4 linked regions of the Homo sapiens genome follow. The protein of the gene in region 2 interacts with the protein of the main gene of each other region in a pairwise test. Each region holds a gene or a part of one and is shown on either strand. Other genes may lie near its edges.

Evidence for each region. Proteins that work in one complex are often made in the same cells at the same time.
Region 1: the proteins of ATXN2 (region 2) and NCOA4 interact in a two-hybrid assay, tested with the Homo sapiens proteins (one large-scale study listed by BioGRID and IntAct).
Region 3: the proteins of ATXN2 (region 2) and TDRD7 interact in a two-hybrid assay, tested with the Homo sapiens proteins (one large-scale study listed by BioGRID and IntAct).
Region 4: the proteins of ATXN2 (region 2) and KIFBP interact in a two-hybrid assay, tested with the Homo sapiens proteins (one large-scale study listed by BioGRID and IntAct).

The regions. Positions count from the first base shown.
Region 1 is NC_000010.11:46,013,624-46,017,123, reverse strand, and holds part of NCOA4 (nuclear receptor coactivator 4), read left to right. Parts: intron 1-429; coding exon of another isoform or gene 430-443; coding exon 444-584; intron 585-1,857; coding exon 1,858-1,998; intron 1,999-2,181; coding exon 2,182-2,270; intron 2,271-2,571; coding exon 2,572-2,680; intron 2,681-3,484; coding exon 3,485-3,500. UniProt on the Homo sapiens protein: Cargo receptor for the autophagic turnover of the iron-binding ferritin complex, playing a central role in iron homeostasis. Acts as an adapter for delivery of ferritin to lysosomes and autophagic degradation of ferritin, a process named ferritinophagy.
Region 2 is NC_000012.12:111,483,466-111,488,561, forward strand, and holds part of ATXN2 (ataxin-2), read right to left. Parts: coding exon 5,011-5,096; intron 3,360-5,010; coding exon 3,296-3,359; intron 2,401-3,295; coding exon 2,248-2,400; intron 1,867-2,247; coding exon 1,800-1,866; intron 1-1,799. UniProt on the Homo sapiens protein: Involved in EGFR trafficking, acting as negative regulator of endocytic EGFR internalization at the plasma membrane.
Region 3 is NC_000009.12:97,418,596-97,422,095, forward strand, and holds part of TDRD7 (tudor domain-containing protein 7), read left to right. Parts: intron 1-3,500. UniProt on the Homo sapiens protein: Component of specific cytoplasmic RNA granules involved in post-transcriptional regulation of specific genes: probably acts by binding to specific mRNAs and regulating their translation.
Region 4 is NC_000010.11:69,002,303-69,005,802, reverse strand, and holds part of KIFBP (KIF-binding protein), read right to left. Parts: intron 758-3,500; coding exon 678-757; intron 72-677; coding exon 1-71. UniProt on the Homo sapiens protein: Activator of KIF1B plus-end-directed microtubule motor activity. Required for organization of axonal microtubules, and axonal outgrowth and maintenance during peripheral and central nervous system development.

The DNA of each region.
Region 1 (3,500 bases), on a different chromosome or scaffold from region 2:
TTATTTTGAAAGTAATCAAAGATCCTTCTGTACCTTTTAGTCTTCATCTCTAAATCTACAAAGAGGAACACATGCCTCATATGACTATATGTGTGTTATAAATAGAAAATGATATTCTAATGTTCTTTTAACTTTTCAGGACACTGTATGCTCTTTGATTCAGGACAATTAGTGTATTTTTCCAGAAATAGCTATTCACATGTAAAGTGTCACTAAAGTAGATTATAGAGTTTTATGGCAGGAACAGTGGTAGAGGGAAGGGAGGAGACAATATTTATTAAGAGTATCTTATGTGCTAGGTTTGGTGTTGGAAAGTAATCTAAGTAGTTAGTAATGGGAGTTGGCTGGAATGATCATTTGAGGGATGATTCAAAGGTGGTTTTTGGTTGTAATTATGGTGCTATTTATATATATTTTTTTCTTTTAAAGGAGCAGTGAGGAGAATGAATACCTTCCAAGACCAGAGTGGCAGCTCCAGTAATAGAGAACCCCTTTTGAGGTGTAGTGATGCACGGAGGGACTTGGAGCTTGCTATTGGTGGAGTTCTCCGGGCTGAACAGCAAATTAAAGATAACTTGCGAGAGGTGTGACATGTGCTTTTCTCTTCTGTTGTCTGGACTCTTGACACAGGGCTGATTTGAGCATGGCCAAGGACTTGGTCTCTCCGTGCCAGCAAAAAATTTCACCCCATGCCTTGCGTGGTCTACTTGGTCCCCGTCAGTTGCCTGATATACTGGTGCCTTTCATCCCAAGGGGAAATAAGGCAGATGCTAGAAGAGTCTGGAAAACCCTGTGCCATTCTAGAAAATTCTATTCAGCTTACTTAGATTACTAACTACTTAGATTTTTGATTACTCCTCTGTGTGATTCCTCAGGCACTGTGACCAGTAAAAATATGAAATGAGTGAGCAGTATCCTCTCAGCTGCATCCTCTTGATTGCATGAAGGATGCACTTGAGCATCCTCCCCATCATCTTTTAGCTGGTTAATGGCATTGTTCTGTAAATGACTATCTGTTAGGGCAAGCCAGAGTGAAATCTGTTGTTGGTTCCAGTAGTATTTTGTTGTTGTGTGTGTTAGACCAAGTATTACATGACTTTGAAACACAACTTTATTAAACAGAAAAAAATGTGTTTTAAAATACAGTTTCTTATGTATATTGTCACGGATAATTTATGGCCTGTTTTGACTTTTTCCCTTGGGATTTTTATATTTAGCCCTGTTTGAATCACTGTTTATGCTTCCAGAAATATTAGTTTATAATTTTACTTAAATTGTCTACCCTAATGGTCTTTTAGCTGTTGACATGTGGTGGCACATCTCTTTACTAAATTGGCCTCCTGTAAATGGACCGCTCATTCTGTGGGGTGAGAAAAGAGATAAGGGGCTAGCTATTAAGTTAATACTCTGTCTTTATTCTGCTGATAAACTTGTAAAACCGTAGGTTTTTAAATTATGTGGAAAACTGAGGGGGTCAGTATTTCCTGGTACATTCTTGTATTTTCTCTTGATTAGGACACCCAAATTAAACCTAATCCTCTTAGAAGGCTGGGTATTGAAGAAGGATTTTAGAGTTTAGGTATGCCTTTATGGCTAGGATTCTTAAATTGGGGTCCATAGGGCTTTAGTGGGTCCTTGGGTGGGCTTTGGAACACTAAACCCTGAAATTATAGGTAAAATCTTGAAAATATACATTTTTTCTGGGGAGATACTTCATAGATGTCATTGGATAATTAAAAGGATTTGTGGTCCCCCCAACCCCACCCCCCCAAAAAAAGTTTTAGAAACTCACTATTCTTTGGGAAACATCATTCTTTGGGATTAACACTAGGAAGCTAACATGTATGTGTTTCCTAGGTCAAAGCTCAGATTCACAGTTGCATAAGCCGTCACCTGGAATGTCTTAGAAGCCGTGAGGTATGGCTGTATGAACAGGTGGACCTTATTTATCAGCTTAAAGAGGAGACACTTCAACAGCAGGCTCAGCAGCTCTACTCGGTAAGGTGACTGCATGGCTAGAATTGGTTTGAGCATGGCTTCTGGTTGCCAGAGAGTATCTTCCTTGTAATGCAGTGTTAATATAGATCAGATAGAAGTTTAATCTCAAGTGCTGTTTGGTAACTTGAGTATATCTGGTGCTTTTGGTGTCATTGTGGCTAGTTGGTTTCATTTTTCTTTTAGTTATTGGGCCAGTTCAATTGTCTTACTCATCAACTGGAGTGTACCCAAAACAAAGATCTAGCCAATCAAGTCTCTGTGTGCCTGGAGAGGTAATGACCCTTTTTGCGTATTTTAACTTTTGACTCTTGAACTTTGGTATACTAAAAGAAAGTCGATTTTGTAACTCATTGCTTGTGTTATATTTAACTTCTGTGTTGCTAGGATAAGATCATTCTGCTTCATGTATTTAATATTATACTTGCTGATACATGAATAAGCCATCTATCTTTGGTTGAGTTTCTTAGAGAAGTGTAATCATTTAAAATTACTCACAATTTGGCTTTTGTTTTAGATGAAGTTGATGAAACAGATATTCCTTAAAAATAGCCAATTTTGTTTTTTTTTCCCCAGACTGGGCAGTTTGACCCTTAAGCCTGAAGATTCAACTGTCCTGCTCTTTGAAGCTGACACAATTACTCTGCGCCAGACCATCACCACATTTGGGTCTCTCAAAACCATTGTGAGTAATCTCATATGCTTCACTGGGCACTTCTCATATCTGTGGCCTCACAGCTGGTCTTAAAAAAAATTGCTATGAATAGTGACTTTCTTGAGAATTTGATTAGCTTCAAAAATTTCATGTTCTCAGCTGGGCGTGGTGGCTCACGCCTGTAATCCTAGCACTTTGGGAGGCCGAGGAGGGCGGATCACTTGAGGTCAGAAGTTCAAGACCAGCCTGGCCAACATGGTGAAAACCCATCTCTATTAAAAATACAAAAAAATTAGCTGGGCGCCTATAATCCCAGCTACTTGGAAGGCTGAGGCAGGAGGATCGCTTCAAGCTGGGAGGCGGAGGTTGCAGTGACCTGAGATCGTGCCACTGCATTCCAACCTGGGCGACAAACAGTGAGACTCCGCCTAAAAAAAAAAAAATTCATATTCTGATTAAGTTGCCTAGGTTGGTAGTTCTTGGAATGTAGTACAGACTCAGTGATACTCTTTGGAATGCCTCATGTATCTCTCTAAATACTTTTGAAATATTTTTTGTAAAATTTATGGCTTGAATAGTTTTTAATAAAGAACGAAACGTTTGGGTCTTGTTAAAAGTGGTAATACAACCAATTCTGGTAAAGATTTTTTATATAATAGTTATGTGGTAGAGTATTCTCAAATTTGATAACTACTTTGTAAGTCATGGAATTTAGTGTGAACAGTATTTCTAATGAAATGGTAATGCTTTAACATTTTTGAAATTTGGAATTATAATTTCACTTTTTTGGCAGCATAGCATAAATAACATGATTAAATTATCTCTATTTTGTAGCAAATTCCTGAGCACT
Region 2 (5,096 bases):
TTTTTTTTGGACGGAGTCTCGCTCTGTCACCCAGGCACGCACCACCATGCCCAGCTGATCTTTGTATTTTTAGTAGAGACGGGTTTTCACCATGTTGGCCAGGATGGTTTTGTACTCCTGACCTCAAGTGATCTGCCCACCTCGGCTTCCCAGAGTGTTGGGCTTACAGATGTGAGCCACCACACCTGGCCAAAAGATTTCCTTTTAAGAAAAATGTGGGATTTTTTCTACGAAGGCTCTTTAACCACACAAGCACAGAATACTAGTTTATGCAACTACATTATACGACAACTCCCTAATTTTAATGCAGAAACATCCATCTTATTTTTCTTTTTGAGGCAGGGTTTCGCTCTTTCACCCAAGCTGGAGCCCAGTGGTGCAGTCACAGTTCCCTGCAGCCTGGACCTTCTGGTTTCAATTGATCCTCCCACCTCAGTCTCCCAAGTAGCTAGGACTACAGGAGCACACCATGACGGCTGGCTAAGATTTCTATTTTTTTTTTGCAGAGATAGGTTTTTGCCATGTTGCCCAGGCTGGTCTTAAAACTCCCGGTCATGTGATCTGCCCACCTCAGCCTCTCAAAGTGCTGGAATTACACGTGAGCCACCAAGCCTAGCCGAAACATCCTTCTAATAGGATCTTAACATTGGTTGAAGTTAGTTGCCCCTCTGCTTCAAAAGAAATTCTGGCTTTGGGGAAATAACTGTAGGTATATATAAAGCAAGGTTAGCAATCTAGTAAATTAATCTAGCAAACCCTCTTCTTCAAATTTAAGTTCAGATTTAAATCAGATTTCAGATCAAAAAGCTTTGGAATTAACTTTTTTTTTTTTTTTTGAGATAGGGTCTCACTATATTGCCCATGCTGCTCTCGAACTCATGGGTTCAAGTCATCCTCCAGCTGGGATATCAGGCATGGAGCCACTGTGTCCAGCCAATTAGTCTGGTTTTTTTGTTTGTTTGTTTTTTGTTTGTTTGTTTGTTTTGAGATGGAGTCTCACTCTGTTGCCCAGGCTGAAGTGCAGTGGCACGATCTTGGCTCACTGCAACCCCTGCCTCCCGGGTTCAAGCAATTCTCCTGCCTCAGCCCCACCTAGTAGCTGGGATTACAGGCGGCAGGTGCCACCATGTCCGGCTAATTTTTGTATTTTAGTAGAGATGGGGTTTCGCCATGTTGGCCAGGCTGGTCTCAAACTACTGACCTCAGGTGATACACCCACCTCGGCCTCCCAAAGTGCTGGGATTACAGGCATAAGCCACCATGCCCAGCCAGTATTTATGTTTGAGACGGGGTCTCACTCTGTCGCCCAGGCTGGAGGGCAGTGGCATAATCACAGCTCACTGCAGCCTCTACTTCCTGGGCTCAAGTGATCCTCTCGCCTCAGTCCCCCAAACAGCTGGGGCTACAGGCATATGCCACCATGCCCAGCTAATTTTTTTGAATTTTAGTAGAGACAAAGTCTCTGTTGTCCAGGCTGATCTTGGGCTCCTGAGCTCAAGCAATCCTCCTGCCTTGGCCTCCCAAAGTGCTAAAATTACAGGTGTGAGCCATCACACCAGGCCTCCAATTACTCTTTTTGAAGAGGATACTATATAATCACAACTGATGGGCATTTTTTCTCCCCTGTTTTTCTTCATAAAATCCATGTGAATATCTATGTAATGTTGTTCATCAAAAGCCAATGCATAGCCTCATCAAAAAGTCAGAGCTAAACTACAACTATTTATTCATTATAAACTTAGTTACTCAATTCATGCAGCATGCAAACTACAAGCAAACACAGGCAGGATTATTCTCACCTTTACCTGCTCTATATGTCTTGGCTTGATTCACTGGCATGGGCGTCATAGGTATTGGGTATAAAGGCTTGAGAGAATTAAAAAAAAAATTAACATTAGGCACCTATGATAATAACAAGGTATTCTGTCACTCTTAGTTTTATATTGCTAGAGAGCTAGGCATGAGAAGGTTTCCTGATTCTCCATTAGTCATTAAAAAATTAGATCATACCCACAGCTAAAAGGAACAAACCCCAAACTACAGTAAATCTAAACCATCTTTTTCACAGAAAACATTCTCAGATTTAGGTCCTCATACTTAACAACACACTGAATCTCTGCATGCCTGTCTGTTTCAAATGCATATGCATAACCATCACACCCTCAAGTCACTGAAAACCTAAAGAGTGCTTGGTGTCAGATACAAACAATTGGGGAGGCTAAGTGAACATCAAATTCTATGACTTACTTGCACGCCTGGGCTCACTGGGACTGGATACATCATATTTGGTGCAAAACAAACAGGCTGAGTATAAACTGGAGTTGGCTGTTGATGACCCACCATAGATGGGCTAGGTTGTGCTTGAGGCCGAGGTGAAGTTGGGGTAGTAGAAGGCTTTGGCTACAAAAACAACAATAAATTCAATTATCTCAAGGTAACAGATGAACTATTATTGCAATTTAAAGACGGATTTTCCCAGTCTTTCTAATTTTACTTGCTTTAACTATGTCCCTTTTATTGAAAACAAAAACACAGCACATAAATTTTCACATTTCAATAAAAGAAAAAATGTTTCAGTAGGAACTTAAAACTTTGTCAATTAAAAAATATTAAAAACAGTGGCAGCTATTTTTAAGAAACTGATGGAAGTGTTTTTAAAAATTAAAAATAAATATATCTTCTTATGATCTCAGTCGAATAATAACAATAGTACAGTCATCTCTTAGTATCTGTGGGGGATTGGTTACAGTACCCTGTGAAGATACCAAAGTCTTGGAATGCTCAAGTCCCTTACATAAAATCATGTAGTATTCGCATACAACCTATGCATATCCTCCTATATACTTTACATCATCTCTAGATTATTTATAATACCTAAAACAAGGTAAATGCTTTACTGTATTGTTTTGGAATAATGACAAGGAAACGTCTGCATGTGTTCAGTATAGATTATCCTAACTATGTTTTTGATCCATGGTTGGTTGAATCCAGTGATGCAAAACCCTCAGGTGCAGAGGACGTATCTATAAACCTGACAGCCTAGCTAGCCAACCATCGTCAAATTCTGGGTCAGAGAAATTCAAAGATTTGCCCAAGATCACATCTAATTGATGACAAAACAAAGACCTTTTTTTAATGTTTAAAAAGTATTCATTAATGGCCATGTAAAAAAAAGAAAGAAGGTTGGTTCAGCACACTAAAACAAAATTCAGATGGCAGGTATGGAAGAAGGACTATTACTAATAATTTTTCTTTTTTTGGGACTAGATAACCTCAAAGAAAGTAATAAACCTACCTGAGAGAAGGAACGTGGGTTGAACTCCTTTGCATTGGGATTCAATGTTGATTTCCTAACTTGCCTAAAAAAAATATAAAGGCCAGTGAAATCTACATGGACTTTACGTTGCTCTAAAATCTTCCATACCTGACAATTTAAAAAAAATTGCTAAATATAGATTTAAACTGTTCTCACTAGAAGATCACTAATCGTTTTTATTGAAACATATACACTTATATTGCCCATTCCTTAATCCCTTAAAGAATACAGCCATAAAAGAACAATTTTTTAAAAATCTGAGTAATATACAACCGTTCCTCTCAAAGGCAATCAAAAAATACTTTTTTTTTTTCCTTCACAGAGTCCCACTCTGTTGCTCAGGTTGGAGTGCAGCAGTGCAATCTTGGCTCACTGCAACCTCTGCCTCCCGAGTTTAAGCCATTCTCTTGCCTTAGCCTCCTGATTAGCTGGGATTACAGGAGACTGCCACCACGCCCAGCTAATTTTTTTTAATATTTATTTTTAGTAAAGATGGGGTTTCACCATTTTGGCCACGCTGACCTTAAGTGATCTGCCTGACTCAGCCTCCCAAAGTGCTGGGATTACAGGTATGAGCTACCACGCCTGGCCAATCAACAAACACTTGAGCTGAAAAGACAGTAGCTACTTATGAAATATCCTTAAAAGCAATTCTTAACATAACAGTATCCTTTTATTTATTTATTTATTTATTTTTGAGACAGAGTCTCGCTCTGTCACCCAGGCTGGAGTGCAGTGGCATGATCTCGGCTCACTGCAGCCTCCACCTTCTGGGTTCAAGCAATTCTCCTGCCTCAGCCTCCCGAGTAGCTGGGATACAGGCACCTACCACCATGCCTGGCTAATTTTTGTATTTTTAGTACAGACAGGGTTTCACATGTTGGCCAGGCTGGTCTTCAACTCCTAACCTCAAGTAATCTACCTGCTTGGACCTCCCAGAGTGCTGGGATTATAGGTATGAGCTACCAGTCAACATACCAATATTCTAGCATGCAGTAATTCTTATGTGAGAAGATATTTTACATGACATACCTGGAAAAAGTCATGGCTGTAAAAAAAAATTGCCTCAAATCAAGAATAAGCAGTCCCCAATTTATCAATAAGCTGCATTCCAAAACTTCAGCTTTAACTGGATTGTTTGGTACCCAAACACCTAAGTCAATGGTAGTTAAGTTCTGAGGTTAGCCCCTAAAAGTCCATTTAATTAATATACTGAATGTGCAGAATTAAGTCTATCTTAACAAATCTAAACATTAACTAAAACACAGTTTCTGATGAAAAATATTTTGAATTCCAAGTAGAAGCACCGCATGCTTCTCTCCTTGACAGTGGCAGTTTTTCAACCTAGCAGCACAGTGAGGGTGACTAATGAGTGGAATCCAGTAAAGATAGGTCCCCTGAATTGATAATTTTTCAACTCCTGTTCATTTACAGAAAAACTTTTCTTAATTTATGCCTTGTTTTTCTAGCCCTGGGGTACAAAAAAGGGGAAGAACAGAAGAGTAGCACAGGGTGCAATAACCTCATTTACTTAAGATGTCATTTGTTTGGACTAGCTGTTTGTAAACTAAGGGCAATGTATAAAGTAGTCTAAAAGTCCAGATGGATTCTTCACAGTTGGAAGGACCTAAATGCCTTTAAAAAAAAAAAAGTTAATTGAGTAACAGGATGGTCTAAGTTCCAGGTTTACTCACTCAGCTGCGTCTTTCTTCTCTTCCTTATCGTCTTTCTCTTGTTTACATGCTGGGCTGGAAGTCTGAACCCCTTGGGAAGTGACCTC
Region 3 (3,500 bases), on a different chromosome or scaffold from region 2:
GAGCAGAAATAAGGAAGATAGAAGGGACATTTCAGGGGCAGTGGTCTAAAATGGTTCTCCCAAGGGTGGAAGGAGTGGAAGGCTTTCGCAGAGGGCAACCTGTAGAACAAGCCTCTGATTAGACTCTAAGACAGGGCTGGACCTGTCCTTTCAAACCTGAATCACAGTGTTCTGTTAGGTTTTAGTAACAGGACACCCATTAGTAAAATGCATTTATCCGACATTTTTTCCCCATAAATTAATGGTTGCTGTCCACTCCTAATGTAGCTGAGAAAAGTAGACCACAGAGGGGAGGTGGCAGTGGAGCAGATGCTCTTTCCAAAATGAAGGGAAGGAGAATACCATGGAAACTCTATTCTTAAGGCAAAGGGTAAGGCCTTCTTACTGAAACTCTGGCAGGGGAATATAAAGTAGTCTGGCCAGGGAGGAGTCAGATATATTGAACAGTCTAATTTGAGTCGTTTACACTGGTCACACCCAGATGGATATTTTCCCTGGATGTGTGCTAACCACCTGACATTATATCTATATGTAATGCGTATGTAGCTGATAGCCAAGGCCCACTTAGGCATACGGATATACAAAGATGCAAAGCCCAGTTTCACTCAGAAGAGCTCTAGATGAACTGATGGGAGGGATTGGGTTTTGAAGGGAAGAAGAGCACATAGATGGGGAAGGTGGAGATCAGAAATGGATAGTCAGGGTGGATTGGCACTGAGGAGTAAGCAAGTGATGCTTTAGTATGTCCTCTTGCAAATTAAAACTTGGCCAGTCTCCACTGTTGCTTTTACTACTTGTGGAAATAACTGTATAGTAGTTCAGTGATCTTTGACTCATGAGTCATGAACCATTGTTAAACTATTTTCCGTGTCATCAGTTTACTATTCAGGACCCAAAATTCATACTTCAGCATTGACATCTGGCAACCGTGAAGTATAGGTCCCAAAGCTGTCCTCTTTCCTGCTCCCTGGCATTCATTCAGAGTGTGGACTTCAGAGGTAGTGGAGGTGTGCAGACTCTGCAGTTCTCTGTCTCTGCCATGAATTTCTATTGAGTATCTCCAGCTGTTCCATTGTCTTGGAATCCACACCAGCCCTGTGACTAAGTGGAGTCAGCTGTGGATTTCACACCACTGTTTTTTTCTTTTTTACTCTGCTTACCCTTTCTTTCCTGTCTTGTCTCCTGTTCTTAATTCTTCAGGGTTTGCTGGGTGTTTTTCCCAGTACCAGTAGACAGGGTGATATAATGGGAAAAGTGTGGCCTTTGGCATCAAACAGACCTGGATTGAAATCCTAGCTTATCTACATCCCGCGATATCTTAAGTATTTAACTTATCTGAACCTTGGTTTTCACATCTATAAGTTGAGGATAATAGCCTCCCAGCATTATTATAGATACTAGATTTTTAGAAAAGCCATTTCTCAGAATTTACATAAGAGAAATAAAAACATGTGCCTACCTAAATACTTGTACATGAATGATCAAGGCAACTTTATTTATAATATCTCAAAATTGGATGCAACCCAAATGTGTATCAACATTTGAATTGATAAACAAATTGTAGTATACCCATACAGTGGAATACTACTCATCAATAAAAAGGAATGAACTGAGTTAAATGCAGTAACATAGATGGAACACAAAGCACTAGGCAAAAATAATCCATAGTGACAGAAAGCAGATTGGTAGTTGCCAGGAGCCAGGGCAGTGTGTGTATGAACCAGAGAGGGCTGACCACAGAGAAGCATAGCTTAAAAGAACTTTTTTTTGGGGGGGGCGGGTGGGGGAGGGTGTGGTGGTTAAAGATATGCTGTACATGCAGTAAAAATCCCTCTTTATAGCCAATCACCTCCCCTTACCCCCAGCCCTTGGCAACCACTGATCTAATTTCTGTGTCTGTAGTTTCGCCTTTTCCAGAATGTTCACATAAATAGAATCATGTATGTAGCCTTTTGTGTCCAGCTTTTTCCTTTAGCATAATATAAGAGTCATGCATGTTTTATGTATCAACAGATTGTTCCTTTCTATTACTGAATAGTATTCCACTGTATGGCGCTACTAGTTTGGTTTATCTACTTACCTTTTGATAGACATTTTGATTGTTTCCAGTTTGGGGGGCAATTATAAATAATGCTGTTATATACACACACACGTTTCTGTGTGGACATATGTCATCATTTCTCTTGGGCAATAATGTAGGAGAGGACTGCTGGGTTATATAAGTGTATACTTTACTTTGTAAGAAATTGTCAAACTGGCCGGGGCAGTGGCTTATGTCTGTAATCCCAGCATTTTGGAAGGCCAGGGCGGGTGGATCACCTGAGGTCAGGAGTTCAAGGCCAGCCTGACCAATATGGTGAAACCCCATATCTACCAAAAATACAAAAAAATTAGCTGGGCGAGGTGGTGTGTGCCTGTAGTCCCAGCAACTCGGGAGGCTGAGACAGGAGAATTGCTTGAACCTGGGTGGCAGAGGTTGCAGTGAGCCGAGATCGGGCTACTGCACTCCAGCCTGGGCCACAGAGCTGGACTCTGTCTCAAAAAAAAAAAAAAAAAGAAATTGTCAAACTATTTTTCAAGGTACTATTTTGCATGCCCACCAGAAATGTATGAGAGTTCTAAATGCTCTGCTTTCTCATCAGCACTTCGTATTGTCAGTTTTTTAAAAAATTAAGCTGCTCTAATAGATGTGTAGTGATACTTCATTGTGAATTTAATTTGCATTTCCCTAATGACTAATGCTGTTGAGCATCTTTTCATGTGTTTTTTTGCCATCTTCATTTTTACTTTAGTGACATATGTATTCAGGTGTTTTGCACATTTTAAATTGGGATCTTTGTTTTATTATTGAGTTTTGAGTATTGTTTATATATGACTACCAACTTTACCACGTCTGTTATGAAAATATCTTCTCACAATCTGTGGCTTTTCATTTTTGAACAGCTTTTGGAAGAGCAGACATTTTAAATTTTGATGAGATCCAATTTGTCAATTTCTTCTTTTTTTCTTTTTGAGACAGGTTCTCACTCTGTCGCACCATGACGGCTCACTGCAGCCTCTCAGGTAGCTGGGACTACAGGCACGTGCGACTATGCCCAGCTTTTGTGTGTGTGTGTGTGTGTGTGTGTGTGTGTGTGTGTGTGTGTGTGAAGACGGAGTCTCACTATGTTGCCCAGGCGAGTCTCGAACTCCTGAGCTCAGGTGACCCATGTGCCTTGGTCTCCCAAAGTGCTGAAATTACAGACGTGAACCACCGTGCCCAGCCAATTTTTTCTTCTATGGTTCTCAAAAGTCTTTGCCTAACCCAAGGCCACAAAGATTTACTCCTGTGTATTTTTTAGAAGTTTTATACTATTAGCCTTTTCATTTAGGACCTAAATTATTTATTTTGAGTTAATTTTTTGTATATATAATATGAAGTTCATTATTTGCATATGAATGACCAGTTTTACTAGCACTGTTCATTGAACTTTCTTCATTGAATTTCCTTAGCATCTTTG
Region 4 (3,500 bases), on a different chromosome or scaffold from region 2:
TCTCAAACATTTCCAGATGCTGGTAGACTTGAGCTAGGTAATATAGGTTATGAGTATAAACCTTTTCAAATCTGTAAAGAAAAAATAAACCAATATTTGTGTAATGGTTTACTTGTTTTTTTTTTTTCCTGAGACAGAGTCTCGCTCTGTTGCCCAGGCTGGAGTACAGTGGCACGATCTTGGCTCACTGCCTCCGCCTCCTGGGTTCAAGCAATTCTCCTGCCTCAGCCTCCCGAGTAGCTGGGATTACAGGCGCCTGCCACCATGCCTGGCTAATTTTTGTATTTTTGGTAGAGACGGGGTTTCACCATAATAGTCAGGCCAGTCTTGAACTCCTGACCTTGTGATCCACCCGCCTCAGCCTCCCAAAGTGCTGGGATTACAGGTGTAAGCCACCGTGTCCGGACCATGGTTTACGTTTTATAAGTAAATTTCATATATATTTATTTTGATTATCCCACCAACCCTTTGAGTTGGATTTGTTTATTGTATCTATTTGACAGATAAGGAAACTGAGTCTCAGGTTTGAACAAGGTCAAATAACAAGTAAGTGGTAAATGGAGGTTTTACTCCTGTCAGAATCCACATTCTATAACCTTTATAAGTGACTTTTTGAACAATCACTAATCTATGATATGTGGAAATATTTGCAAGGGCTGATTTCTATACCTACTCACCTTTTTGATCTCTCTTGTTCAGTAAGTTTCTCTTCTTCAGGAAGAAAACGCTCAGTAGGATCAAGAGGAGGACTCCCAACCTACAATTAAGAAAAACAAAAGCTCTTTAAAGTTTTAAACTGTAAACACCAAGTGCCCTCTTCTGGAGGACCTGGAGAAATCAACTTCTACAAGCCAAATACATTTCATTTTTTCCTAGTTCATTTTTATGTTACTCAAGAAGTAATTTTCTGTTTTTTAAATTTTTATTTATTTATTGAGACAGGGTCTCTGTCACCCAGGCTGGAGTGGAGTGGCACAATCTCGGCTTACTGTAACCTCCGTCTCCCGATCCTCCCACCTCAAGCAATCCTCCTACCTCAGCCTCCTGAGTAGCTGGAACCACAGGTGTGCACCACCAGTCCTGGCTAATTTTTATATTTTTTGTAGAGACAGGGTTTCGCTATGTTGCCCAGACTGGTCTTAAAACTCCTGGGCTCAAGCAATCCACCTGCCTTGGCCTCCCAAAGTGCTAGGATTATAGGCGTGAGCCACTGCACCCGCCTCAACAAGTAATTTTCTTAACCATAAAATCTGAGTCAAACAAATAAAAGATACCCTTTTATTTGTTTTAACCAAATGTCAAAAGTTCACATTTGACAAAATTTTACTGTTGTTGCAGTTAAACTGCAAATATGCAAAAAATCCACCAATCTGCTTTTAGACATATATAATTCTTGAAGTATTTTTTCTTTTTTTAATTCTTATTTATTTATTTAGAGATGGGGGTCTTGCTCTGTTGCCCAGGCTGGTCTTGAACTCCTAGCCTCCAGTGATCCTCCTGCCTCAGCCTCCCAAAGTGCTGAAACTACAGGCATGAGCTAAGGTGCCCAGCCTCTTTAAGTTTTTTTTTTTTTTTTTTTTTTTGGAGATGGAGTCTCGCTCTTTTGCCAGGCTGGAGTGCAGTGGTGCGATCTCGGCTCACTGCAACCTCCGCCTCCCGGGTTCAAGCGATTCACCTGCCTTAACCTCCTGGGTAGCTAGGATTACAGACACGTGCCACCACCCCCAGCTAATTTTTGTATTTTTAGTAGAGACGGGGTTTCTCCATGTTGGCCAGGATGGTCTCAATCTCTTGATCTCATGATCCGCCTGCCTCGGCCCCCGCAAAGTGCTGGGATTACAGGTGTAAGCCACCGTGCCCGACCCCTCTTTAAGTATTTCAAATGGCAATTTTGTCTGGTAAAAGGGCTCTTTTAAAAACATGCATAAGCAAAACAAATAGGAAAAATGTATATATTTCTACAGTAGTAGTATTCTAAACTGACCACTAATAAAAATCAAATGAGAGATTTTAATATTTATTCTAATATTTTTTTCTCAAGGAAATAACAAAAGTGTATTACCCCCTTTCAATACAGGGACATTAAAACCAGATTCCATTATTTATTGCCTTGGGCAAGTCACTTGATCTCTTGTGCTTCTGTTTAGTCATCTATAAAATAAGGGTAATAACAGTATCTATCTCATGAGGATTAAGTAATATTTATAAATCACTTACAACCCCCTCTTACGTCTTCCAAAACAGAACTACCTAACCTCTGCCTCATTCTACTTCTATGAGGATAGTCCCATCTAGAAACACACTCTTGCTTTTAACTGAATTCATTAAACTCAAAAAGGAACAACGTCTTTCATAAAAATATGATTTTACATTCTGGATGTAAACACTAAAAGCATCACAACGTGGGCTCCCAGGATTCACATAAAGTAAAAACAACTAAGACAGGAAGCAAGGCCCAAGGCAAACACAATAGATAAGTAATTCTTCAGAGAACTCTTCAACAATTCCGAGGGCTGCTTACCATGCTTACCCCTGTCTAGATGAGGGGAATTAATCAATATATTATTTTATGTACATACTTCACTGTTATGGCTTTCACACATCATACGTAATATTAATACAGTCAAATCAGTCTCTTAACTGAAACAGAGGTACAACTAAACACAAGGAATTTCACTATATGTGTTATGTTTCCATACAAATACTATTTTTAATGAAATACTATTGATGCTTAGTAACTTTTTTTTTTTTTTTTTTTGTAAAGACGGGTTCTTGCTTTGTTGCTCATGTTGGTCTTGAACTCCTGGCATCAAGCAATCTTCCCACCTCGGCCTCCCAAAGTGCTGGGATTATAAGTGTAAGTCACCGTGTTCAGCTTTTACATTTTATTTTACTTATTTTTGAGACAGGGTCTTATTTGGTTACCTAGGCTGGCGTGCAGTGGCAGGATCCTCGCTCACTGCTGCTTTGACCTCCTGGACTGCCCTCCCGGACTCAAGCCATCCTCCCACCTCAGCCCCCGAAGTAGCTGGGACCACAAGCACACGCCACCACACCCAGCTAATTTTTTTTTAGTTTTTGTAGAGACAGCGTATCACTATGTGGCCCAGGCTGATCTTTGAACCTCTAAGTCAGGCAATCCACCCACCTCAGCCTCCCAAAGTGCTGGGATTAAAGGCGTGAGCCACTGTGCCTGGCCTCAGACCTTACATTTTAAATTAACAATTTCACATATAAGACTGTGAGCCTAAAAGCAAGAAAGGGTAGACTAATATCTCTATTTGGTTTTGTGGCACTCTGCTCTTGTTAGTACTTCAGGAAGAAAGTTAAAATGCCAAGGTACGAGGCTGGGCATGGTGGCTTATGCCTGTAATCCCAGCACTTTGGGAGGCTGAGGTGGGCGGATCACTTGAGGTCAGGAGTTTGAGACCAGCCTGGCAACATGGTGAAACCCGGTCTCTATAAAAATACAAAAATTAGCTGGGAATGGTGGCGGGCAC